Linked DNA regions of Homo sapiens: region 2 is linked to region 1. The links come from fine-mapping of genetic effects on gene expression. A gene starts in region 1. The other region holds a variant in brackets. All regions are shown on one strand. Distances are between the middles of the regions. Region 1 holds the start of CEMIP2 (cell migration inducing hyaluronidase 2). Region 2 overlaps CEMIP2 (cell migration inducing hyaluronidase 2).

Region 1 (12,536 bases):
GGGGTCAGTCCTATCTTTGTAGTAGGGGAAAAGTCTCTCCAGGAACTTTTTGATCTCTAAAGGCTTTTAATTTAAAATACTCATTTTACCAGGGAAGCCATATATTGCGGTGAAGTATTTTTATTTTCTTCAGAATATTTCAAACCTATAGTCCTAAAAAGACTAAATTTACTTAAAAAAAAAAAAAGATACTAAGCTTTGGATTAGAATAAGTATTATTTAAAGTTGAAAGATTTATTTTCCTGCTTAAAAATTTACTTTTGTATTAAGCTATAGTCTTTTTGCTAGAAAACTACTAAAAAACTATAGTTAGGAAATAAATCTCTGGAAAAACAAAAATTAACTATAAATACTAAGAGTTTGCTTAACCTGATAATAACAAAATAAGAAATGCCTATGGTCTGTATTTAAGGAATTCAGATGAGCAACTTAGCCACAGTTTCACTAAAGTGGCCACATCTTCGGCAAATCACATTGGACTCTCCTGTTAAAATATGAATCCCTCAAAACAAAGAGCTGCTATTTATAATGTTTAATGCCAAAAGTGAACCAAGTGAAAACTTCTTAAAGTGAAATAAATGACTTTAAAGAAATATTTAAAATTCATTCCTATGTTTCTGTCATTTATGCAAGGTAAAGGAGGCAGCTGTCTAATTTTTCTGATCCCAAATATACTAATTAATCCTATCTTTTTCCAACGATGTTAAACAAGTCTATGAGAAGTAATGCTTGACCCTAAAGCCAATGAGGCTGATACGGCCAAAAGGTTAAAATGTATTATCATGCCCAAAAAAAGAAAAACATAAAAGGAAAAAACTGCAGACCTACTACAGACCAAGCGGGGAGGAAGGGTAGCAATTAAGAACAGCTAACACTCTCTGAGCAACCAAAAATAAAAATAAAAAGAGAGCAAAGTACATAGGCCTCTAGGTGGAAGTAAAGAACTAGAAGATAAACTGCAGAGAGATAGATTGTTCTTCAACCCAGAAAATTAGAAAAAAGGGAAAAAGGTCGTTGTACCTACCAGTCATTCTCTATTCCCTTCGGTTTCCTTTTTTCCTATTAATATTTCTCATATTTCTTTTTCTCCTTAATTCTTTTTATTGAAAAGCTGTTCTCTTTTCTCCCTTCCTTCCCAGTGATCCTAGACCATCCCCCTTCGCCCTTGTTCTCAACTGGCTGGGAAGATTCAAGAGAGGCTTCCAACCTGCTGGCAGTGACGGATGGCAGTGCAGAGGCACACAATGGCAAGTGCAGGCGCGTCACCAGCCTTGCAGCTGGCCTTCCAAAGAAAGAACCAAAGTCGAAGTCTGTCCTGACAGAGGCTGATTTAATTAAGGTTATAGCAAAGGGCAGAACTGCCTGTGGGCTGCATTCTCTGCAGAGGGCCAAAGACAATGCATTAAAATACTTCTCAGGAAGAAAAAACCAAGAAAGTTATGTTGGCAAAATGTTGAAAGGTGGGAAAAATGAAAAGACAACAGGGATGTGTTTGAAAAACAAGCAAAGACCTGCCAAAGTTCATGATCTAGTGATGTACAGATACCAAAATGCAATGACAATAGGAAACAGAAGGGGTATGTTTTGATGTGCCTTTCACACTAGAAATATTTCAAATGAATAATGAGATGCCCAGACTGAAATAATCCAAGGCTGTTCAATCCAGCATCATAGTAAAGTTTCTATCAATGGCAGGGCCAGGACCAGAACCCAAGTTGACTATTTCTTTCAACTGTAACACATAGCCTATTTTTAATATAACTTAAACCACTTGGAATAAAGCCTTTTCAAACAGGGCACAAGGTCAGCTTTGAGCATCTCTTATGAGAAAAGGGTTCTGCTAGACACTGGAGACCCAATAGTACAAAAAATAAACATGGTTCCTACATTCAAGAAGCTCACAGCCCAGCATTTGGGGGTAGAAAGAGTAGGGAGACAACACAAGTAAACAAGTAATTAAACTGAATGTTGAGGCAAAGAAGGTGGGCTGAGGAGGTGATTGCTTGAGTTTATTAAATCCCTATGAATGGAATAGAGCTTAATTTTCTAAAAGCCCTGGCAAATTTACTCACCCAAATGTGCACCACCAGACGATTACTAATATCTTTCTTATTTTGCATGTGTAAACTAAAGTCTACCACTGAACTCCGCCATTTAAATGACGACACGTTGCCCAATAGTGACTAAAAAGTATGGGAGGGAGGGGAGGGTGACACACTACAGAAGTCTTTCATATTCTTTGAAAGGGTGTCACCTGCAGGTGAGTTCCAGGCCAGAATATAAAACAGTCATAGTCCCTCTCCTCCTAGGCCACGTGAAACCTAAGCCAAACAAAAGGGCCATCTTACACATTCTCAACAGTTTCCTCTATGTTCCTCAAGACTCAAGGGTGCTACAGAGTCAAAAGGCAGAACTTCTAATGAACAAGTAATTACTCAGCACTAGAGTGGCAGCTGGACTTCACTTAGCCGAATAGGGATACACTGTGGCTAGGAAGAGGTGAACAATGATGTGCACCTGTAGTCCCATCCACTTAGAGGCCGAGGCAGTTGGATGGCTTGAGCCCAGGAGTTCAAGACTATAGTGTGCTAGGACTACTATAGAGCCACTGCACTCCAGCCTGGGTAACCTAACAAGACCCCATGCCAGCCCCGTCACCAAAAAAAAAAAAAAAAAAAAAAACTGGCTAGCAGCAGCATAACAGGCAAACAGGGGCTACGTGACAAGCCCAAGTGCTGCAAGCACTAACAGGAGGCAAGAAAAAACACTTGAAGATTAAAGCCAACCTCAGACTCAGCCAAGCCCTGCTCAAGCATATTTTTCAAATCCTCATATAAAGTTGATTTTATAGTGGTGGCACTGGTGGCATTAAAAAGCAATGTTAGTATGGGTGCAGTGGCTCACGCCTGTAATCCCACCACTTTAGGAGACTGAGGTGGGAGGATCACTTGAGGCCAGGAGTTCAAGACCACCCTGGGCAACATGGTGAAACCCTATCTCTACAAAAAAATATAAAGATTAGCTGGGCATGGTGGTGCATGCCTGTACTCCCAGCTACTCAGAAGGCTGAGATGTGGAAAGATAGCTTGAGCCCAGGAGGTGGAGGCTGCAGTGAGCTGTGATCATACCAATGCACTCCATCCTGGGTGACAGAGTGAGACTCCTGTCTCAAAAAAATATATTTTTTTAATGTTATGTTTTTTCAAACCACAACTTAAAAAAAAAAAAAAGAAAACCTCAAGAACTCATTTTTCTAATTCCTCCTGAAACAGGAATCAGGCATATGTCCCTGTGTTAAGCTAAATCTTTCCCATTCCTAAAATGTTAATAATTAACTTTCCAAACTTCATTGTATGTGAAAAAATGATTCATTCTTCAGGGAAGTGAATCACCATTACAGAGACCATTAAGACAACAGAAGGCTTGCTGTCTCCAAAGTGCACACCAATAATTAAGTAAGAGCCCCCAAATCGATAACAATTTCACACTGGAGGGGGACTTAATCTGACCTGACCACGATATCAAATTTATAGTGGATATTCATATGTTTTAAGATACTTACATGAAACTCAGTCAGAGGTCAATTCTTTTCTCATGGGCTCAATGTGGATTGTCTTAAATTTCAACTCTTTCAGGCAACAACATCCTAATGACACTTCTAACCAGTGGTAAAGCCTTATTAAAAAATATGAGGATTAAGAATGCCACAATCTCTACCAGGCAAACTTTTCACATAAAATTCTTATCAAATATTGAACTTTTACTTATTGTTCAAACTACAATGGACCCTTGATACAACAAATGTAAAAAGGTTTATCACTTTTCACCGTGTAAAGAAAATAAATGTCTTGTTACAAATCTGGTTACTAGGTTACCCTAATATTAACAATTTCAAAGCAGATTTGCCTTATAGATCAAAGGACTGATTTGTTGGGAGATAGCAATTCTGTGTTTTAAGACATACAGTTTATGAGTCTTTCACTTTTTTTAAAGACATTTTAATAAAAACCCTATGCTTAATTTATCTCTGTATTGCTCACAGCAACCAGTACAGTGCCTTGCACATCCTAGGAATGCAATAAAATAGTTGCTGAACATAGTTCCTGACAACCAATATTAAAGGCTTCCCAAAGCAAGTACCAGGAAAACAAAAGAACAAGCAAACATGACCTACAGCCATAAGTTTTGAAGAAGAAAAAAAAGAACATGCAAACATATTCTAGTATGCTTTTATTCTATGATTCACAAGCCAAATCTGAACAGGGTTTCCAGGAACTTGCTTCTTCTAAAAAATGTGCACATCTACAGTACTTTAAATTTCCATCCTGTTTATAGAAAATACAAGTAAAGCTAATGCTATTTTTACACTTAGTTCCTTATTTCCCAGAAATTTGTTACAAGTAACATCACCCCACCATCATGTGTAAGTAGTAGGCAATGAAAAAATATACATAGTGTCTGCCTTAAACCTGAAAGCAGTGACTTTCAAAGCCCAAATACAAATTATCTGATCATTAAACTAATTAAATTGCTAACAAAGCCAAACAGGAATAAAATAAGAATATATCTGAGAAAGAAAAAAAAAAAAGTGCTGACTGGAAACAGGGACAAAGGAGTTCTTGTCCCTGCTTGGCTATTAATTTACTATATGACCTTACCTAATTATTTAGCCTCTCTGGGTCCCAACTTCCTTGTTTTAATATTATCTTTGAGGTCCCTTCAAGCGACATGCTAAGATTCAGCATATGTAGCAGTGTCTAGAAAACTGATTTACATTCATTACCCCCCTCCCCACCGCACCCCTGGCAAAAGGGCACAGTTCACTTGATAGTTTTAAATATCTGAGTTTGGATTTCTATCAAAGGCAATTTATTAAAATGTCAGATGGGCTTAAGTCCATTTCAAGTGGAGAACTAAAGCGAGTATTGCTAACAGATTCGCCTAGACAGCAGCTGCTGCTATTGAGAGAATAGACTTTAACAATCTAGATGAAAATTATACCTCTTTACAAATGGAGAAAACTAGTAATGGGGATTTTCATACTCTCAAAAAGGCAGATGCATAGCTTTTCTTCCTTTTTTTTTTTTTCCTTTTCCATATTCATCATATTGAGAGAGAGGAAAACAGAAGGGCTAGCTTGGCTTGGGAGGCAGAGGGGAGAATGGATGTTACCGTACAAAACCAGACAAGACCTTTTCAATTGATGTACTGTACTAGACAGCCCATTCTTCTCACTAATGCTCACAATCCAAGAGAAATGAAAAGATTTCCTGTGGCTGGGATGGGAAGAAGCCTGGACAAGAGAGCAATACCATATGACAGTAACTAGCTTAAAAGTCTAAAGACTTGCTCTCAAGATGGGATTCAGATCATTCTGGAAAGGGCCAATAAAATGAAAATCTGTAGCTGAGACCTGATTAAGCTATGATTTATATCTATTTATAGCTTTAAAAAACTTTTGAAAGTACCTTTTGATACCAGACAGCATTAGCCTGTACAGTACTTTATCATATATTAATACATAGCAAACTTACTCAAATTGAATCCCCAAAACATTCCCATAAAGCATTTTAAAACTCCTTTTTCAGGTGAAGAAACAACGTGAGAAGGATTAGGGGATTTGCCCACAGCAAATGTTTAGCAAGTGCCAAGCCTTGTTTTAAATCCAAGTCTGACTTCAAGTCCTCCAATCTTCACCATTTTAAGATAGTACTTCTGACACTAGTTTTCAGTCCCTACTATTTTGTCTGATTTAACAAATTTTATTTCTCACAAAATTGCTCCCCCACCCCCAACTGTTCCTTCTCTGGCTTCTTAGAGCGTTCTGTGCGTAATTCTCCCAGACATGCACTTATTGGACCTTCTAATTGTTCATTTCCTTATGTCCGGGGCTAGGCTCATTTCTTCAATAGCAGAGATTGTCATCTCTCTAGTTGCAAGTGACACAGGTATCTTCAATCCCTGTGGCCTCCCGGGTTGCAACCACTTCAACTCCTTCTCTTTACCAACATGAATGCTCCACAAAGCAGGTGTTGCAATTGCTTCCAGAGGGTCTGGACCACAATAGGTGATTAATAAGTGCTAGCTGAATGGATGGTGGGTGGGTGAATGATGCAATGCTCATACATATTTTAGAGCACACATCACAATGCACACATTTACATACAGCACTCCATGTGAGTCTAAGACCATGAATTTGGTAGTGATTATTGTTTCTTCTTTTTTTTCTTTTTTTTTTTTTCAGATGGAGTCTCGTTCCCATCACCTAGGTTGGAGTGTAGTGGCACGATCTCGGCTCACTGCAACCTCCACCTCCCAGGTGCAAGCGATTCTCCTTCCTCAGCCTCCCGAGTAGCTGGGATTACAGGCGTGCACCACCACACCTGGCTAATTTTTTTTTGTATTTTTAGTAGAGATAGGGTTTTACCATGTTGGCCAGGCTGGTCTCAAACTCCCGACCTCAGGTGATCCACCTGCCTCGGCCTCCCAAAGTGCTGGGATTACAGGCGTGAGCCAATTGTGCCCGGCCTAAGTTTCCTCTTTCTAAAATGTGGCTTGTCTTTCTCAATTTCAGAAACTTGCCCAAAGCATGTAGCTCTAAGCAGTACCCTGTCAACTTCAAGATAATGGCCCACAAGACTACATTACCCTCCAGCTTGTCTTTTCTTGATAGCTGTTTGAGGACAGCATTGATTAGGCCTATTAGAACATGACTGAAGTGTTGCCCCATTCTGGTTTCCTGTTATGAATCTGACATTTCTGAAAAGTCACTGGTTACAGACTAGATCAAGGAAGGAGACTACTCAAATAATTAACTGTGACACAGAATATCCAGATAAACACCATGTAAGAATTTACAGATTCTATTTCCCTGTCCACACACAGGAGAGTCCTCAGCTCACTATCTCATTCACAGGTTAATAAGAACAGGTGATGACTCAGAATTCGCTTCTAATCTTAGTTTTCTGAGCCTTTAAGCACACATACATCAGAAAAAAACAGCGTCAGGAGGACTGAACAGAAAGCCAGAAGACAGATTTCCAGTTCCGCCCAAACTGATCCTCTAATGCAGGTACACAGAAGCTGGGGGAAGTCATTTCGGTGTGAAGAGAAAAGCACTCTAAAGTGCTACCCAATGTTTACTAAGCAGAGGACATGCCTACTACACATTCTTCTGCTTTGCCCAGAAATGCAAACTAAAAAGAACCCTTTGTATAGGTAATCAGACCCACAACCACAGTATGATACCCAGACCAATTCTGAAAAGAACAAGCGTCCTTCAAGGGTCAAATAAGCATTAGTAGCTCCATTCTAGCCAACCAAAGAAAGATAAGGCTAACCATTTTAAAGGTGTTTTTTTAACACTGAGCCATTTCCAACAGATTTGCCTGGCTGCTCTGGGGAGTCAGGCCTCCCTCAGCTCAGGTGAAGCCTCTACCCTTTCCCCTCTCTCTAAATTCTTCTCACTTTTTACCGGGAAGAGCAGCACATCTCAATACATGCAACTGTGCAGCAGCGCATCACTCTGTCACACTGAATCAAGGGGAGTGAACTCAAGGCAGTGAGTAGCTCATGTGCACAATGAAAGTTTTAAAAATTATTAGGCAGTCTATCCTTAATCCCAACTGCTGATAAAAGGAGATATATATCAAAGTCTGTTTTCCTAACCTGCGGAGAATTCAAGTGAGCTGTTTCCGCTCCAGGTCGAAGTCTGGTGACACTCATCAACCCTCAGCAGAGAGCATCCAGGGAATTCAGGACCTTGGTTTTATCGCTAAGGGTGTAGCCACTAGTGCTATTAACAGCAGCACTCTGGGTCCTCACAGAGAGGGCCCCCCTCCTTTACCAGGATCTCCCAACTCTGCAGAGAAAAGCTGGGAATAGGGTCCAGGGCTAAGGCTATTCCCCAGATTTAAAGGAAGCTGTACACGATTTTAAAGCCTCACCTTACCTCAGCTAACAGAGAGGCAGGGGGCGGAGGGCGGAGGACCCACCAACCCAGGGGAATTGTAAGGAGACAAAGATGACCCCAAACGCACAAGCGCGCGCGCACTGAAGCCCGGACTGCAAAGCACATTCCATCAACCTTTCACTGTAATCGGCTTACTGTGGGGTTTATCCCCTCACCCCATCCCTCTCCAGAAAGTTTAAGGCTGTTCGCACCGACTTTGAAAGGTCCATTGTTCCCTTCCCCGTAAACGTAATGAAAAGAGAGAGTGGAGAGAAAGAAATCAAGACACCGTTCCCGAGGACCCTTTCTTAAGAAGAGAGGACTGACTCCTGGGGAGTCGGGTCAGTCCCAATCCAGAGATGAAACCGGGAAAGGAGGCGCACGGGGGAAGGGCGGGAGGACGTTTTCCTTTTCGGCAGAAATGCCCAACGCCGGAGCCGGCCAGGCCGCCGGGAGCAGAAAAGGTGGGCGAGACCCGGGTCTGCGTCCCCGCAGTGGCCCCCGAGGGCAGCAAACGAGGTGGAGCGGGGTGGGGGGGCGGGTGACCGAGTCGCTTCTTACCTTCCCCTACCCCGCTTAGCGTCCGTTAACTCAGGTGCCTACACAGCGGTCCAGGGAGACGGAGAGGAGTCCCTGGCGTCCTCGGGTCCAGATCTCCTCTCCATGGCCAGGAAGCCACTCGATTGCCGGCGCCCGCAGCTGCCGCTCGTACTCAACTGGCAGCCGCAGCCTCTGCCTGGAGGTGAAATACTCTCCTCCCGAGAGTGACGCGCACTTCCCTCCGCCTCCGCCTCCTCCTCCTCCTCCTCCTCCTGCCCCGAGCCTCGGGGGCAGGGGCCTCGGCTCGCTCTCTCCCGGAGCCGCCGCTCGGCTTTCTCCGTTCCTTCCCCTCCGGGAGAAAGAGGAGGAGAATCGTGGCCCGGGCGGCGCGGGCCTGAGCGTCCCCGCGACAACAGGGGAGGAGGCGGCGGCGCGGGGCAGAGTGGGGTCCCAGGAGTCGCTCTTGTCCCTGGTCGGCGGGCGCCGCGGCTTGCTAGGGTCGCGCTCAGCCTCCGCCGGCCAGACAAGCAGCCCGGCTCGGCTGGGCCGGGAACTGTGGATTGGGCGGGCGGGCGGGCGGGCGGTGGAGAGCGAGGGAGGCGGAGGGAGAGGAGGAGCCTGCCATCAGAGGAGGCGGTGGCCCCGCCCGGCCCCTCCCGCCGGCCCCGCTCCCCGCGAGCTGCGAAAGCGGAGGCTCAGCGCCACTCGCTGCCGCGCGCTGGAACAGCGCCCGAGCGCACTGCCGGCGGGGCAGAGCCCCAGCCAGCGCCCCCCGCTGCGGCTGCAGGCTCCTACCCTTCCTGGGCGCGCACACCCGCCTGGCCGAACCGGAGCCTGTGCCTCCAGCACCCCCAGATAAGGCTGGTACTGCGCCTGTCACTCCCTGGCTGAGCCTGACACTGCGCCCCCAAAGTCCCCTGGCTGAGCGTGACTGCACCCCATCAACCCTCGGCTGCGTCAGACTTTGAGCCCCATCACCCGTAAAGAGATTTCCACACTCCCACAAATGTTCTGAGCGTCCAGTCACAGCCCCTACCTGGCCAGGCGCGAGCGCCAGGTTCTCAGCGCTGTCAGAAGAACCAGCCTGCTCTGGGACACAGGGCAGCTCTTCTGGTCCCTTGGAGCAACCCCAGCATCCCGCTCGCAGGCCGGAATAAATATACTTAGGTCTTCCCACGCCCCCTACCTGCGCCACTCTGGAGTGGCGGCCGCTTGCAGAGGTGGCGCCGAAAGCCACGCCCCGGCCCACCCCAGTGCCAAAACGCCGCTCTGAGGACACCGGCACCGGCCCTGAAGCAGCCCTGCCGCCGCCACCCTGCCCCCTCGCTGGAGCTGCTCTCACAGCCTTGGCTCTGGGTGAGGGCGCGGCCCGGGCTGGATCACTCAGACGCACGAGGTCCCGAGCTAGTGACAGCTGCAGGACTGCCAAATCCGGGCCGTCGTCATCCTCGATTTAATTGGAATTGGAAGTTTTCCCTCCAGGAAACTCTTTCAGTGAATAATATACAAGGTAGGATAGTTTAGTTTTCAGGGTTGTTCATTCCTCCTCCCTCAACAAACTCAGTCCTGTAACCGCGACACACCCGGCAGTGAAGGGGAATCCCCTATTTCAAGGGTATTAGTTCAGGACTTTGTATAAGAAATTACTGTTTCCAAATCTTGGCTGATGATAAGAATCCCCTGGGGCACTTAGAAAAAATTGGATTGCCAGACGTCGCGCAATCTACTGAATCAGAGGTATCGGGAATATGTAAGTTTGGGAAACAGGGCTAGAATGCATCCTCTAATTAATTAAAGCCTTGGAAAGATGCCTCCAAAACAGCAGCGCGAGCTAGTGCTGAGATCTTACAGAAACTTCACCCAGCTGCCTTTGAGAGCCGCTGTCCCTTCTGGGATAGGCAGGGAGGAAAGGTTTTTAAAATAAGGAACATAGTTTTGAATAACAAGATGGAAGGGACAAAAGACTGTTTTCATGGTCCAAAGGTGTTTTGGATTGTGCTTAATAAAGATAGAAACTGTGTCACCCGTGTGCTAGGCTGAAAAATGTTCCCTCCCCAGAGATAACAGGTTCTAAGTCCTGGAACTTGTGCATATTACCTTACATAGACAGAAGCAGGGCCTTCGCATATGTGATTCAATTAAGGGTCTTCTTGAGTTGGGGAGATTATTCTGGATGATCAAGATGGGTCCTAACTGCAGTCACATGTACTTTTATAAGGGGAAAGGGGGTGGTTAGCACACACAGAGGAGGGCTGGCCACTGTGGAGGCAGAGATTGAAGCGATGCCTCCACAAGGCAAGGAATGCCAGCACAGAGGCAAGGATTCTCCCCTAGAAACTCTGAAGTGAGCAAGATCCTGCTGACACCTTGATTTTGGCCCAGTGAAACTGAGCGCAGTCTCCTGCTTCCAGAAGTGTGAAAGAATAAACTTCAGTTGTAAGCTACACTGAGTTTGGGTGATATGTTGCAGCATAGGAGGCCTGTGCTGGGCCAACTTTATATTACAAATATCCATTTTTTGAATCCTTATTAAGTGCCAGGCACTTTGCTTGGAGTTAGGATATGTTATGGGATATGTTGTCTAATTAAATCCTCCCACTAATTATTATTTCCGTTTTAAAGATGGGACAGTAGGACTTGAAAATTTAAAGGGTCTTCCCAAGGCCACACAGTAAGAACCTCTTGGAATCAAGTCTGCAAACCACTCAAATGTTAAAAATAGCAATTAGGCCAGGCGCGGTGGCTCACGCCTGTAATCCCAGCACTTTGGGAGGCTAAGGAAGGTGGATCACAAGATCAGAAGATAGAGACCATCCTGGCTAACATGGTGAAACCCCATCTCTACTAAAAAAAAACACACAAAAAATTAGCCAGGTGTGGTGGCAGGCGCCTGTAGTCCCAGCTACTCGGGAGGCTGAGGCAGGAGAATGCCGTAAACCCGGGAGGTGGAGCTTGCAGTGAGCCAAGATCGAGCCACTGCACTCCAGCCTGGGCTACAGAGCGAGACTTCATCTCAAAAAAACAAAACAAAACAAAACAAGCAATTAAAAATTTATATACATTAGTCTAATAAAATTTTTGGTTTTAAAAAGGACTTATTTATTTCCACAATCTGTATTTATTGCCCAAACCAAGGGAAATGGATGTTGATTGATAGTGGAGTGGGCTAGTGGGGAACAGGGGTGTAGGAGACCTCTTTACACTTGCGCTCAATTTTGTTGTGAACCTAAAATTGCTCTAAAATATAGTCTGTTAACTAAAAAAAAAAGGGTAGGGGGATTGAATCTGTGTGTGGCCTATCTTTGAGAATTGTATAAACTTTTGTTTTTAGATATTTATCTGGAACATAAAAAATCAAAGGAAAGGCCGGGCACGGTGGCTTAAGCCTGTAATCCCAGCACTTTGGGAGGCCAAGGCAGGCGGATCACCTGAGGTCAGGAGTTCAAGACCAGCCTGGCCAGCATGGTGAAACCCCACCTCTACTAAAAATACAAAAATTAGCCGGGCATGGTGGCACGCACCTGTAGTCCCAGCTACTCGGGAGGCTGAGGCGGGAGAATTGCTTGAACCTGGGAGGCAGACGTTGAAGTGAGCCAAGACCTCATCATTGCACTCCAGACTGGGCAAAAGAGGGAGACTCCGTCTCAAAAAAAAAAAAAATCAAAGGAAACTGATGTGAAAGGAAGCTATGAAGGAAACCAACAAAGTAAGAGGACACAGACTTCTCTGATCAATGGGACTGATGTCACAGATTGAGTTCTCAGGGAAGCAGGCTCTGAGACACTGACAAGATGTTTCACCTGTGGGGGACAGGCAGGAAGCAGCATGGGCAAAGGGAGTAGCTGGGGTGTACCCAATGGCCTTCATTGATCCCACTGGGGGATCTGAGAGATGGCCCATTGGAATTATTGAGCCTAAATGACTGGACCATTAGATACCCTCCTGAATCAGTCATTGGATGTCGTTCATCCTGGGACGTGACATGACCTTGGTCAAGGCGACCCTGCAGCTGAGGCAGTCTCCAAAAGGGCCAGTTGCTGACAGC
Region 2 (15,890 bases), 84 kb before region 1:
TAACCCTTTGAATGGTATTTCATTTTTTAATTTCATTTTCCCTGAATACTAATAGAGTTTCCATTCAGATTTCTATTCTATGAGTTGGATATGATTAACATTTGTCCATTTTTTTCCTGGCTTGCTTTTATTTTCCTCAGTGATTTATAGAACACATATATATTCTTGATAGTAATCCTTTACTGGTCATACTTGTTACAAATATCTTGTTCAAGTTTTTGGTGAGTCTCTTGACTTTGCTTATGGTATCTTTTGTCACACAAAAAATTCCATTGCACTCTGGTATCAAAGTTTGTGTTTCCCTAAAATTCCTATGTTGAAATCTAGTCACTAATGCCATGCTGTTAGGAGCTGGGGCCTTTGGAAGGTAAGGACAAAGCAACAAGGCTCCATCTATGAACCAGGAAATGAGTCCCACCAGACATCAAATCTGCCAGCACCTTAATTTCAGACTTTCCAGTCTCCAGAACTGTGAGAAATAAATTTCTGTTGCTTGTTAGCTACCTAGTATACAGTAATTTTTATAGTAGCCTGAATGGACTACAACAAAATTGGTACCAAGAAGTGGGGTGCTTTTATAACAAATACCTAAAAATGTTGAAGTAGCTCTTGGACCTGGCTGATAGAGGCTGGAAGTGAGATTCACGCTAGAAAAAGCCTATGTTGGCATGAATGGACCATAAAGGGTAATTCTGGTGAGGGCTCAGAAGAGCTGTAGAGAAAGGCTGAATCTTCTTAGAGAATACCTACATGATCATGAACAGAATGGTAAAGGCTATTCTGATAAGGTCTCAGATGGAGATGAGGAATACGCTATTGGAAACTGGAAGAAAGGTGATCCTTGTCATAAAGTGGCAAATAACTTGTCTGAATTATATTATTGGCCTAGTGTTTTTGTGGAAGGTAGAACTTATGAGTAATGAAATGGCATATTTGGTTGAATAAACTTCTAAACAAAGTGTTGAAGGTCTGGCTTAGATTCTCTTGAATGTTTATAGTAAAACGTGAGAAAGGGGAAATGAATAAAGGATGGATTTTTAATCAATAAGGAAGCAGAACTTAAAGATTTGGAAAATTCTCAGCCTGTGTATACTGTAAAAAGTGAGAAATGTGTTGGGAGCTAACACCAAGGGTGTGGCCAAATGACCCTTTGATAAGGAAATTAGTATGGATTGGCCAGGTGTTACTCATCAAGACAATAGAAGAATGACCCTGAAGGCATTTCAGATTGGGGCTGCCACTCACAGGCCCAAGTGCAAGGACCTGGGGGAGAGAATGATTTCAAAGGAGGGGTGATTGGCACCCCTGGGACCTTGGCACCCTCTGCCCAGCCCTGCCTCAAGGTTCTGCTTCCTGCACTTTGTCACCATGCTCCTCCACTGCCCCAGGTGTGGCTCTCGTGGCCCTGATTCAATATGCACTACACCCAGCAGAGCTATAAGGGTCTGGCTCCCTCTACCTAAATTTCAAAGGATGACCTGGAGAGCCTGGAGCCCAGGCAGAAAGCAGCCATGAGGTGGGGCCACTGCAGGGAACCCACACTAGGGCAATTCCCAGTGGAGCCATGGGGGGCATGGCCACATTGAGACCAACAGTTAGAGCCACTGGCATATGATTATATCTGGGGAGAGCTGCAGGTTCAAGACCCAGGCAAGGAGCCACCATGGAGATGGGGCCTGCTCAAAGCCCCATTAAGAGAACTGCCATGGGAATGGGGCTCCTCAAAGCCATGAGGGCAAGGCCATGCCCCAGTGGGTTCAGAAAGGGGAACTTCAACCCCGCTAGGACTGGCAGGAAGAGCCTCGAGTCAAAGAAGATTATTTTCAAGCTTTAAGGTTTTGAATTGCTCAGGAACCATTACCCTCTTCTGCCCTTAAATAAGCATCCTAACTAGTGGAATGAGTCACAGAACCTGGAAATAGACGTGTGACAAAGATGGCATTACAAATGGAATGGAAATGTCTATCCTGTTCCTGTCCCACCATTGTGTTTGGAAGCACATAACATATTTGATTTCACAGGTTCACAGCTGGAGATAATTTGCCCCATGATGAGTCATACCTTCAGTCTCACCTATATCTGATTTGAATTATATTTAGATGATACTTTGGACTTAGATTTTAAAGTTGATGCTGGAATCAGGTAAAACTTTGGGGGCTACTGGGATGAATATACTTTTCATGTGAGATGGAGTTTATTTTGTTTCACGGTGTGAGGTAGGGATCTAATCACATTTTTTTCCATATGGAAAACCAATTTTTCTCACATTATTTATTGAATAATTTATCATTTACATGCTGATTTTTAATGCCATCTTTGTCACACATCATTTCCAGGTTCTCTGACTCATTCCACTAGTTAGGTTGAAGGGCAGATTTCTAGGTTTCAACCCAAGATTCTAACGCAATCCACCTAGAATGGAGTCCATAAATCTGCAATTTCCATAGTTCTGATGGATATTGGCCATAAACCTCACTTTAAGAAACATAATCCTTGGCTTTGGTAAACAAAAGAGAATGCCAGAGTCCAGGGAAGATGATATTCTTTAATACAGGGTAGCCTCCCCTTTATAACCTGTTCTTTTTCCAAGTGGTACCTGAAACCTTAACATCCACTATTCAACAGCCCATTTCAATGCAACTTGACTCACAGAAGTCTGACCACAGAGAGAAGCTAAGCCCTCATTCCTTCTAAACTTAGAAACTCATACTAAGCAGGTGGGTATATCTAAGTAGCTAACTTCCCCATGGTAATTAACAGATTTAACTTTTCCCTTGAAGCAGGAGTCTACCTACCACACACACCAGTGTAACATTATTTTTGTAGCCCTCAGCAAGATAATTACATTAGTACAACAAATGAACTCTCAGACTATGAGAGCAACACACACACACACATACACACAAAGTAACAAGGAGGGCAGAATTTGTTTAGAAAAATATTCTCTCACTGAAGCACACTCAGAAATTCAATGAATAGATAGAGTCCACTGGCTCTGACCTGCTAGTGGAAGAGCAGAGATGGTAGGAAAACTGAAAGAAAACCAAGGTAGAGTCACTGTTCTTCCTCCTCATTTTTTACTTCCAATGTTACCATTCTTTAAGTCTAAAACTCGCTACCTTTATGCTTCATATTAGCCACTTGTCTTCTGTAAACAGATAAAGTTAGCACCAAATAAAAAGAGCCTCTTGTGTTAGGTAGCAACAATAAAAATACTAAATTCTTAATTTAGAATCTGACTCTCCAAAATATCCAACACTTACACTTGTTATCGACTTTAAATCCAATTATTTTAGATAATATTACAGTAAATTATGACTGAAATCAACAAATTGACTCATTTCAAGGAATGTGAAACAACAGCCAGAAAATTTAGATTATCAATATAATCTATATAATAAAATATAATCAATAATTATATTGATTATAAAATATATTGATTATAAAATAAAATATAATCAATATAATAAAATCACACCTTCCCCTCACAAAAATAATTTTATGTTGGTAACTGACCCTCTTCCTGGGGTCAGTTCCTGGAAAAAACTGCACAGGAAGCCCCTAATCCTCATGATTCCTAATCCTGTTTATGTATCATCTATCCACTTGCATCTTTCCTTAACTTTTCTGGCATATGTTTTCAATATAGAGCTGCAACAAAGGAAAGCTATAATTAACAAATCTCTTCCTCTTAGCTATTAAAACAGGTGACTTATAGAAATGCAAGACATTACAAAAAGAAAGAATTTTCCAGTGCTCACAGAGCACAGCTTCCAGGAAGATGTTAGGATAAACATGCTTTCTTGTGGCCAGGACCCTGGGCCTGGAATCTGAGTAGATTATATGTTTCAGAGCCAGGTACTGTTTCTCATCTAGTATCTGTGTTCTGAGAACATTGCTTAAGCTGGAGGAAAATCACAGTATAATCCATGACCTTCCGGAAGGTAATCAGAAGGGATTCTACTCAAGTACAAATACTCATATCCTGTAGATGTACTGACTTCACTACCCAGTGACTAGTTCTCCAGGGTGTGAATTTTCCAGATCTGTAACTTCCTCTACACACAGACGAAATCAGTCTCATATGGAGGTCGATATGCTGCTGGAGGGCAAAAGTCCTCTAAAAGCCAACAAATCAGATATGTCAACAAAAATTCCAGATACACATTACTTTTAGAACTATAAGGTGCTGTGGGCAGATATTTAAAATCACATTGTCTCCCAAGAGACAATTTGTTTTAGACATAAGGACTGACCTGATTTTGAAATACTTTAGCAAGGGCTGAGGATCCTGAGGGTTAGAAGAAAACATGTGAGCAGCAGTGGAGCATGAGTTACGAAACAGTTCTGGGAATGTGGTCTTCCAGTATAACAAGGGCCACAGGAGTGGAACTTGGGCAGTTGGGAGGGGGCAGAGGTGTGACTAAGCAGAAATGGGGCACAGAAACACGGGAAGGTTTGTTGTCAAAGGCACTCATTTTCCAAGTCCTTCAACTCAGCTCAGCTTGTTATATGAACCTTAGCTCTAAACCATTTCACTACATGTTAGCATTTTTTCCTACTTGATAGGAAGGAAAAGTGAAATTGTGTGTGGTTAAAAAACTGAGAGATAGTGGGCTGGGTGCGGTGGCTCACGCCTGTAATCCCAGCACTTTGAGAGGCCGAGGTGGGCAGATTACCTAAGGTCAGGAGTTCAAGACCAGCCTGGCCAACTAGAAACCCCGTCTCCAGTAAAAATACAAAAATTAGCCGGGCGTGTAGCACATACCTGTAATCCCAGCTACTCAGGAGGCTGAGGCAGAAGAGTTACTTGAGCCTGAGAGACAGAGGTTGCAGTGAGCCGAGATCGTGCCACTGCACTCCAGCCTAGCCGACAGAGCGAGACTCTGTCTCAAAAAAAAAAAAAAAACCTGAGAGATAGTTAGAAATGAGATGCTTCTGATCCCTGTTAGTTTATGGTACAGAGGGGTTAGAATAGACAAATTATTAACTGAACTAAAGTTTCCTCTCACAAGAATGAAGAGCTAAAAACTATACATACTAGCAGCAGAACAGGGTAAAGCCACATGTTTTCCACGTTTGTTTGTTTTCCACATTTCATAGCTCCAGTCTGTACACAGCTGATTTGTTGAGTTATGGTGCTAGGGCAACTAAGAGCATGAATGCAAACCTCGTGATGTTCAAACCAAGTCAGTAAATGGGTATTGCCTGGCCTGAGGTCTCATTTTCTAGATACAAGTAACAGCAACAGAGTGTGTCGAAACTAGGGCAGGGTTTGCATCAGGTATCCTCAGTGGTTCCCAAAACTGGCATAATCTTAGAAGTTTGTTTTTTAAAAATCCACATTCCCTAATCCTTAACCCTCAAGACAACAACAACAAAAACACTACTAAATTAGAATTCACAGGAGTCTAGAAATCTAATTTTTTAGAAAACAAACCATCACGTGTTTCTGATGACCAGCCATGTTCAGGAGCCACAGCTGTTCTCATTTAATCCCCCCTGTAATTTCACAAAAGTTACTAATGGATCCACTTTATAGATGAGAAACCTGAGGCTCAGGAGGAAGCTGCTCCTAGGACCACCGCTAAGTAGAGAGCCTTAGCGGAATCAAACCTAGATTGGTCAGCAAAACAACCATACCTACAGCAAGTAACTGTATCAGACACTTTACCCTGACTCCACTTCACTTCCTCTAAGAACTATTTTACTTAAAAAACAACTGACTGCATGCACTCTTGAAAGAGTCAACAAGTTTTGTCATCTTTCTCTCCCATCGGAATTCTCTCATTCTCCTACCCATAGTGGGAGCTAAGGATGTTTCTTGCCTCCTAAGACTTGGAAGTCTTGCGTTCTCCCACATCAGAAACCTACCTGACCCAGGCGCTCCTCCCTCAGGAACTGGATGTTGACAATCAACATGGGCTGATGGGAGAAGGTGAACCTCCCACACCCACCCTCTTCCCTGGCAAGGGTCAATCTCATTATCCACTACTCAGCCACCTCCTGCAGCCCTCCATAAAGTTCATGCATTAAAAGGTTTTTGCTTACAAAGCAAACTGCTTGTATGAAATGATTCATTCTACCTCACAAAAAAATACATCTGAAATTATCAATCAGAGCTTCAATAAATGTAAAATTAGTAAAAAGGGTGGATAGTTTCATCAAAAAGCAAATAAACTTATGTTTTTGTTAGTCTGTGCAGCCTAATTGTGGCCAAATGTACATTTTCCTTCAAAATCCTTAAAATAATAAAACAAACTTGCAGAAAATAAAGAATGGCTGGGATTTCAGAGTAGGAATAACTGTAGCCAAAGGAATCATTGTAGTGGTATTTCAGGCATCATGGCGGGAGGACTTAATCACGGGCTCCAAACCTTTGCCCCAGTAACAGCCACATACTCTGCCCAATATGAAATCTGCCCTAGTCAGAAAAAGTTCTAGGGAAGACTGTGTAGATAGAATCATTAAGGTTAAAAAAAATCAATTTTGTTCAGATGTGTTCTCTGTTGAAGGGAAAGAGGGAAAGGAAGAACAGCCTCACTACATGCTATGAGATGGTCAAACTTTAGTGTTCACAAGAAACATCTGGAAAGCTTGTTATAACATAATATTCCCAGCTTCACAACTCCTGGAAACGCCAGTTCTCCTGTCTGAGCTGGGGCTTGGGATCCTGCATTTTCATCAAGCACCTCAGGCGATTCTGATGCAGGTTTCTTCCTTAAGTTGCTATTTAAAAAATTCTGACAATGTGGTAAGGTTCCAAGAACAGGACAATGAACGCTGGTCTACACTACACTGAGATCAAAGGTTGGTAAACTTTTTCAGTAAAGGGCCTAACAGTACATATTTTTGGACTGACAGTCTCTGTAGCAACTACTCATTTCTACCCCTGCAGCAGGAATTGCCCACAGTTAATAAGTATACAAGAATGAGCTTGGCTGTGTTCCAATAAGATTTGATTTATGGACACTGAAATTTAAATGTCATAGAATTTTCACCACATAAAATATTACTCTTCTTTTTCTTTCTTTTGTTATATTTAAAAACATAAAAATGATTCCTAGCTCAGAATTGCAGGCAGAGGTTTGCCAACTCGGATTTTTCAATTGTGATCATGAAGCCAGCTTTTCTATGGATGAACTTTAAAACTTAATTTTTCATATTTAGACTAATTATTTTGTCCCTCTTAGGAAAATTACAAAAACACATCTATAAAGATGTTTTCTGGTCCACCCTTTGCTGTATTTTCAGATATAACATGTTCACAGCTTGCTATGGCTGATAATTTTGGATGTCCTGTGGGGCACAGTTCCTCATTTAGAAATCACAGTTCAGTCAGTCATTCTCTAAATTTACCACATAAAAATAAAAAGTGTGCGTGCCCTTATCCACAACACCAGGGCCTACTGAAGCATCCTTTTATTAGTTTTTTTCTCAAATTGAAGATAAATAAGGGAAAAACAAAAAAACCTTTTCTCTTCCAAATGACTCAAATGGTCTAGCAAGTCTGTGAACAGCATTTTGCCATTTGTGAGCAAGGAACCAGGAATGGAGTTCCTTTATTTTTTTTCCCTCCATGACCTTTTGTTGAAAACTAGCTTAAATAGTGTCTGCTCACATTTCCAGCACACTGGGTTATAACAGTAATAATGTAATCATAACTAACAGTAATGATACAAATCTGCTGCCCTATTAAAGGTCTTTACCTCCAGGGGAATTTCTCAGGTTATTAAACATTGTTTAATAAGTATCTGGAAACCAAATAAGAATTCCAGAAGTAAGCTCCAACTCTGCATGATGAAATTAACAAACATTGTCATCATTGAATCTATGTATTGTGTTTATCTACTAGGAACAACAGAAAAAAACACTTGAACTAACTAAGCTCATTCCTTCTTACTGAAATGCTTCTCAACCAGACACATCCAAACATGACCTCATCTCTTAAGGAATGAAAACCTACTGTAGTTATCTAAAGCACTCAAGCCTCGATCTGTCACTTCATTACCTTCCCCTCCTCAAGACAAAGTAACCCACTTTAATGGCATGAGGATGTGTTGTCTCTTGATGAAGTTAGAGAACAGAGGAGTCATAAATCCTCTCTTCCCATCCCCGAGTCTAAACATCAGCTTAGAGGCTGCTTTGCAGTCATAGTCCATGAGATGGTGCGTCTGCCTTTCATCTTCTTGCCAGCACTCTCTTCCAGCCTCTGAAGATAATATATGGCATGCTGACTCAGGTGGAGAGGCAGGAATCACAGCAAAGACTTAAACCCTAGTCTGTGGATACATGAGAGCCCTCTGTGTTGCTCGTCAGCTGGCTGATTTGTGGACGACCACATTTTTGGAGCTCAACCAACTGCCTCACCTGATGGAAAATGCTTATGAACTTATAAATCACCTTTGAATATATTTTCTTGGTAGAAATAGAACAGATTGCTAGCTCCCAATTCCCTGAAATGTATATATCAGTGTATAGAACCAATTTAATGATTTGAGAGGACTGAGGACTAAAAACTGTATTAAAAGCTTCTATTAAAAAGAGACAATAGAGAAATGCTTTGTTTAGGGCTGGGAGTTTTGTGAGTAATATAGGAAATGCAAATAAAAATAATAGGTAAATGCAATTTTGTTTTAGTCACAAAAAAATTACAGACTGGAGTTAAACAGTGGGCCTATTATATTAGTGCCGTGGTTCCGAAACCTGGCTGCATATTAGAATCATCCAGGGAGCTTTAAAAAAAATTCCAGTGCTCAGGCTGCACCCAACACCAATTAAATCTGAATCTGGGGGGAAGGGAGTAAAGTCCAGGCCTCTATATTTTTTTTTAAAGCTCCTCAGGTAATTCCAGTGTGCAGCCAAGATGGAGAACCTCTGCCTTGGAGAATACAGTCCCTGCCCTTCTGAAGCTTACTCTTACAATATTTACTTGGTGGATTCTGTCCACCAAGTGTCTTCCTCACTTCCGTCAGTAACTTCTTTACAGCTGGAATCTGGAATTTTAAATTTATAGATAGAGATATAAATTCACATACAGGCCAGGCGCGGTGGCTCATGCCTGTAATGCTAGCACTTTGGGAGGCCAAAGCAGGAGTATCACTTGAGGTCAGGAGTTCAAGACCAGCCTGGCCAACACGGTGAAACCCCACTTCTACTAAAAATACAAAAATTAGCAGTGCATGGTGGCGGGTGCCTGTAATCCCAGCTACTTGGGAGGCTGAGGCAGGAGAATCACTTGAACCTGGGAGGTGGAGGTTGCAGCGAGCTGAGACTGCATCACCTCACTCCAGCCTGGGTGACAGAGCGAGACTCCATCTCAAAAATAATAACAATAATAATAAAATAAATAATAAATAAATTCACATACACACATATATAAAATACATGCACACATATTTTTATTTAACTTAGGCCCTGATTATTAGTATATAAAACAGAAAAACCAAGTGCCTTGGTAATTTACATATCTTCTCCAAATCTTTAAAGAACCAAGCTCTAAAAAACACACGTAAAGATATTTAAGTCATAAAACACACACACACACACACACACACACACACACTCTAATGACCTTCAGGAACCATAATCCAATAATATATTTAATAGGTAAGATCTCATTCATCAATATACAAAAAAAAAAAACAAACCAGAAAACAAAAAACTAACTTTGATTAAGACATGTGCCCTTAGTAAGGGCACTTACAATTAGAAAGGTTTATCGGTAGCACTTTGAGGTAGCATATTTTGTAAAGTCACAGGGCTGCTCTGCAGTTTCTCCTGGATACAAAGGTAGAGGCCATCAGCCTTTGCCCCTAGAAGAGGAAAGTGAAATTATCTGTACTCATTGCCAGTGTCAGCCTGAACACACTTTCTACCACCCACCCTTGGCCATCCCTCCTCTACACTTTATGCGTCGGGGGTTTAGAACAACGTAAAGGCATTTTGCTGCTTCTTTCCTCTTGGTACGGCAGCATCCCAGGCTGTGGAGCCAGTTGCCTCTTGCCGCATGTGATTCACCAGCAGGAGACGCATGCACCCTGTGGAAAGGGAAGCTGGGCATCACAGCATGCTTTTTAATTGGCTTTAACATTTCATTAAGTAAGAGTGACTCATTCCTGCAAGGCTTTAAAGAGGTTCATTTCTGAGTATTCTCTCCACGATTCTGACCCTAGAAAGCGCTCCTTTTTTTCCTCCCTGGGTGTAATCATTTTGGGGTATCATTAAGCTTTCTGGGATTTTCCTGGCAGGAGGGTGAACAGAAAAGCTTTAAAAAATCCACACAAAACAATAACAAAAAACCCAAGTGCAAGAGCAATACCAAGAACAGACTTCCTTTGTGCAAGTTAAAATGATACAAGTTTACGGTTCAGGAAAACAACCTACTTCTTAAAACAAAACAAAACAAAACAAAAAAGGAAATATTCAGTTGAGCTCTGCATTTTAAACACAAATATACAGTCAAAAGAGGCTAAGGATTAAAGCTGCAAAAATGGTCCCAACAGCCTCAGACTTTTGCTGCAGGAAAATTTTTTGCCCAATGGTCACAGATTAAAGGGATATCTAATCCCCAAGAGCCCTTTTGTCCCAATATACTTCCTGTTTGAAAGTTTAACCCTTACAAGTAATTGATATATAAGTGAATAAAAATAGCACATGTCCAGGCAAAAAAGGGCATGAGCTGGGCCTGAGTTGCCACTTAAAACTGTCATTCAATATCATAGAAAATCCTCAAAGGCTGCCCAGAAACAGGGCCCCAGGCACTGCTGAACATGCCAGCCACCAAGTCAACTGCCACCCGACCCAACTGAGCATTAAACTTCAAGTATCCAAGGTGCTACAATAGCTGGTCCTCTAAAGACCTCAGGCTGACTCTCAGAAGCCCCCACTCCACCCCACCCCATTATACAAAAAGTAAAAACATTGCTCATGGTCATTACAAAATACGGGGGTGGAAAGTGAGGAATAAGAGATCTGCTCTCTGAATACACCAGCCTTACAAATACAAACAACGTCTTTAACATTTTGTACAACTAGAAGGTGCATGAAGCTGGTATCCAAGCAATAATTTCAAACGCTTTCTTTTCTCCCCATTCTGTATCAAACTGGAAAATGGTTCCGTTGGGTTAACAGTGTCATTTTAAAATGCCATAAATTAAATAAGTTAGTTCACATTTTTTTTCCCCCAGCACTTAAGTTACAGTTAGTCTCTAATGTGCTTTTGAAGCTTGCTTTAGCAGTTCCAGGTCTCTTCTGCGGACAGTGGTGGCTCTGGGACAACCATATTCGTCCAGCTGCAAAGGTATGAATTGTTCAAGCACCCCAAGGCCCTGTCCAGCAGGACTGGTAAATAGCTTAGTCCATGATGGTTTAAAGTTTCCACTGAATCCCAAAAATATGGTACTCCC[T/TAA]AAAAAAAAAAAAAAAAAAGAAAAAGAAAAAAAATCAATTTTTATAGCTACATTCCAGCAAGAGAATATAGGAGGTGAGTCGGAGGTGAGCAAAACAAAGGCAGCTATTAAAAAACTCTGCACTTCCTTACATCAGCAAATGAACTCTCACCACCCACCTTTTGCCCCAGATAACAAACCACATCCCAACACACTTCCTCTCACATTGTGCCCTTATTTAGAAATCATCTTAATGATACCCACTCCAGCAAACAAGCTCATGAAAATGGTCTGGTAGCTGAATTGCACCATAAAATTACCTATGTTGCTGGCCCTGTAAGAACTTCATGAAATAATACAAATACAAACCTTTGTCATAAAGATGAGCTGGTTTGGCTAATCCCAGAGGTACTAGTAAGTGTGAAATGTTTAACTGCTTTATTTCTCCTCTTGTGCTCAACAGAACAATGGACCTGTATGTGAAATTTAGAAAGTCAGAGCCAATTTCAATCCTTCAGCATGAGTATCTTTCTACTGAGTATCTTTCTGAACTGACTGCTGAATAGAAATATTAGATAAAAGCAGAACTCCAAAAAGAAAAAAGTCTAGATGATTTTCCATCCAATTCCCACTCTTCCACCCCACCACCATGGGCTTCACACGTTGCTCTTACAAGGGGTAACGCATACATAAACCAAATCATTTACGTACGTTCACCTAGTGCAGGGCTTCCCAACCCCTGGGCCATGGATGGGTACCAGTAGATTAGGAACCAAGTTGCACAGCAGGAGGTGAGCAGGCGAGCGAAGCTTCATCTGTATTTACAGCCACCCCACAACACTTGCATTACAGCCTGAGCTCCGCCTCCTGTCAGGTCAGCTGTGGCATTCAACTCTCATAGGAGCAGAACCCTATTGGGAACTGCACATGTGAGGGATCTAGGTTGTGTGCTCCTGAGAATCTAATGCCCAATGATCTGTTGATCATCACCCCCAGATGGGACCATCTAGTTGCAGGAAAACAAGCTCAGGGCTCCCACTGACTTTACATTATGGTGAGCTGTGTAATTATTTCATTATATATTGCAATGTAATAATAATAGAAAAAAAGTGCACAGTAAATGTAATGTGCTTCAATCATCCTGAAACCATCCCCCTTCACCTCCAGTCCATGGAAAAATTATCTTCCATGAAACCAGTCCCTGATGTCAAAAAGGCTGGGGACTGCTGACCTAGTGGATGGTCTGGGGCACAGCTCTTTTAGGGAATAGTCTATTGTTGTTGTTGTTGTTTATAATTTGTATAAATTTGTGAGGCACAAGTGCAATTTCATTACATACATAGGATTGCATAGTGGTGAAGTCAGGGCACTTAGGGTATCCATCACCCAAATAATGTACACTGTGCCTATTCAGTAATTTCCTGTCATCCACCCCTCACCCTTCCTTCTCCATTGTCTATCAGGGAGTAAGTCTACTGTAACATGGGAGAATGGTTTTGTTTTGTTTCAAATACTCTATTTATTTAAGTTCTATTATCTATTTATTAAATAAATGGATAAACACAATTCTAAAAATAAATAAACGACTAAATGTGTTTTCCATGGTTTGAATTACCATTTTTGTCACATAGTAAGCCAACATACATACTTGGACCTATCTGTGGATTCTCCGTTCTTCTCTGATCTTGCTCTTCTCTGCCAAAACTATGCTGGCCTATGGCTTCACGGTCCATTTTAATATTTGATAAAAACAAGCCCTTGTATTACTGTAATTTGTTTATATTTTACTACTTTCTCATTTATTCTTCCAGATGAACTACAGTATCAACTGTCAAGTACAGTAGAAAAGTACCTTTTGGGACACTAATGGAAATGTGTCAAATTTATATTTTAACTAAGTAAATGTAATGCACTTGAATCATCCTGAAACCATCCCCCTCCACCTCCAGTCCATGGAAAAATTATCTTCCATGAAACTGGTCCATGAAATTAACATTTATTAATTTTCCATTCAGAAACAGAGTCTCTCCTTTTATTCAACTTCTGTTGCATATCCTTTAGCAATATATTTAATAATGTATTTATTTTCTGTGTGTGTGTGTGTGTGTGTGTGTGTGTGTGTACACATACAAACTCACTCTTTCAAAAACTTTAATCAGAAATGTTCTTGGCCAGCCGGGTGCAGTGGCTCATGCCTTTAATTTCAGCACTTTGGAAGGCTGAGATGAGAGGATCATTTGAGCCCAGGAGTTCAAGACCAGCCTGGGAAACACAGCAAAACTCCATCTCCACAAAAAATTAGAAAAATAATAAAATTAAAAACAAAAACAAAAACAAAAAATAACCAGCCAGGCTGGTGGTGTGCACGTGTAGTCCCAGCTACTTGGAAGGCTGAAGTAGGAGGGTCACTTGAGCCTGAGAGGTCAAGACTACATTGAGCTGTGGACACATCACTGCACTCCAGCCTGGGCAACTATTTTTGTTTTCTTTTGTTTTTTTAGAGATAGGGTCCTTGCTCTGTCACCCCAGCTGGAATGCAGTGATGCAAGTATAGTTTACTGCAGCCTCAAACTCTTGGGCTCAAGGGATCTTCCTGTCCTAGCCTCCTCAGTAGGTGAGACTACAGGTATGTGCCCACATACCCAGATAATTTTTAAATTTTTCATAGAGACAGGGTCTCATTACATTGCCCAGGCTAGTCTTGAACTCCCGGCCTCAAGCAATCGTCCCGCCATGGCCTCCCAAAGTGCTGGGATTATAGGCATGAGCCACTGTGCCTGAACTCTTGGCCGGTATTACTGAAACAAAAATTTTCAAGAACAAATCAGTGTTTAGGGGGCTCTGAGTAGCTCTTATTAATTAAAAGGTAACATTAGATTGATTTATTTTCAGAGTCATCAAGGATACCTACAGGAAGTTGAAATTTGTGTGGTATGTCTTAATGTGGGTCTCGATGGTTCTTAAGATTAAGTACCTTAAGTTTCATGCTGGTATGGGTTCTTTATGGTAGTCTTTCTTTCTTTCTTTTTTTTTTAGAGACAGAGTCGCGCTCTGTTGCTCAGGCTGGAGTTCAGTGGTACAATCTTGGCTCACTGCAAACTGCCTCCTAGGTTCAAGCAGTTCTCCTGCCTCAGCCTCCCGAGTAGCTGGGATTATAGGTGCCACCAACATGCCGGCTAGTTTTTTGTATTTTTAGTAGAGATGAGGTTTCACCATGTTGGCCAGGCTGGTCTCGAACTCCTGACCTCAGGTGATCCTCCTGCCTCAGACTCCCAAAGTGCTAGGATTACAGGTGTGAGCCACCGTGCCTGGCCTACTGTAGTCTTTCTAAAGCAGTGGTGACACAATCTAAAATTAGTGCAGCAGTCTAAGCACGGCTACCCTGCAGACCTGACCTTCTTCAATAGGTCAGAATTACCCATAAGATCATTTACAGGTCACCCCGCAACCCTATACACATAGACACGTGCTCAGTCTCCCTAGAAGTCACTGCCAGTTGCTCCATACCTTCTTAACACTTTGTTAAAATGTTACACACACACTGAATTTTTGCAAACGAAACCTATCTGCATAACCAGAGGCAGATCAAGAAACAGCATTACCAGTATCTTAAAAGCCTTTCTGTTAATGAGTTGGTTTTACCTCTTAAATCTATGGGGTACCTTGCAGGACTACCATGTTGTCCTAAATACTTGTGGTGAGATTTATGTCCTGGATTGTTTTAGGGGAAGTGAGTGCATGTATTTTCAACATTAGGAAAAATCTTTAAATCCTGCAAGAAAATTGAGGCTGTACAAGTGTCTTAAGCCAGAAGACAGAACGACATATATACATTTAATGTTACATCCAAATAATCCAGTGACTTCATAGAATTTATTGGCATCCGGTTCTATAAAGCATAAGCTATTGGAAAATGATTCTAAAGCTAGATAGGCCTTTAATTTGGGGAAAGCTTAAGTTCCTTCCTTAATGGTTCCATTAAATGAAAGCGGGTGTATAAATCAACATCTGCGGCAAAGGCAGAAAACACCCTGAGTTCATCTCCTTGCCTCCAGGCAGGGTCTCACCAACCCAGAAAAAGAAAGGTTTCTCTCCTGTGCAGCTTTCTTCAGAGACATCAAAGAAAACCAATCAGACTAGTGCTCTGTAAGAGCGATTGCACACTCAGCCACTTCAAAAATCAATTTACTCTTTTCCAGTCATTTCCAAGTGACCCAGGTGATGACTTCCTGTATCACAATCATAGTGCAATGCTGTCCAAGACCGTCAGTGCGACAGAGGGTTGCAAAGGTAAACTGCCTGGAAAATCACTTCAAAATAGTAATAAGCCTTCTGAGGGAGTTGTGGACAAAGTATATCAACTTAATACTAAAAAGTATAATGCTCTGATATTTGTTTTACGAAACTCAAAAAATAAATAAAATAAAAAGTGGGATAGTAATGTTCCAAATAATGAGCTCTTTTCCTCTGAAGAGCCTTCCCACCATTTTGCAAAATGTTGCA

Evidence for each region.
Region 2: its variant is fine-mapped to the expression of CEMIP2 in whole blood (INTERVAL, PIP above 0.99).

What each region holds. Positions count from the first base shown.
Region 1 is chr9:71,759,845-71,772,380 of GRCh38, forward strand. It overlaps CEMIP2 (cell migration inducing hyaluronidase 2), which reads right to left and starts at 8,669. Exons shown (of 24, transcript NM_013390.3): 1 at 8,513-8,669. RefSeq lists enhancers at 3,258-3,402, 8,327-9,008, 9,009-9,690, a cis regulatory region at 3,323-3,336 and a silencer at 8,764-9,433.
Region 2 is chr9:71,673,987-71,689,876 of GRCh38, forward strand. CEMIP2 (cell migration inducing hyaluronidase 2) reads right to left here. Exons shown (of 24, transcript NM_013390.3): 23 at 11,757-11,860; 24 at 9,380-11,407. The coding sequence ends at 11,211. Among named protein-coding and RNA genes, the nearest start is that of CEMIP2, 87 kb to the right of the region's middle. The variant T/TAA (reference allele first, on the strand shown) is at 11,409.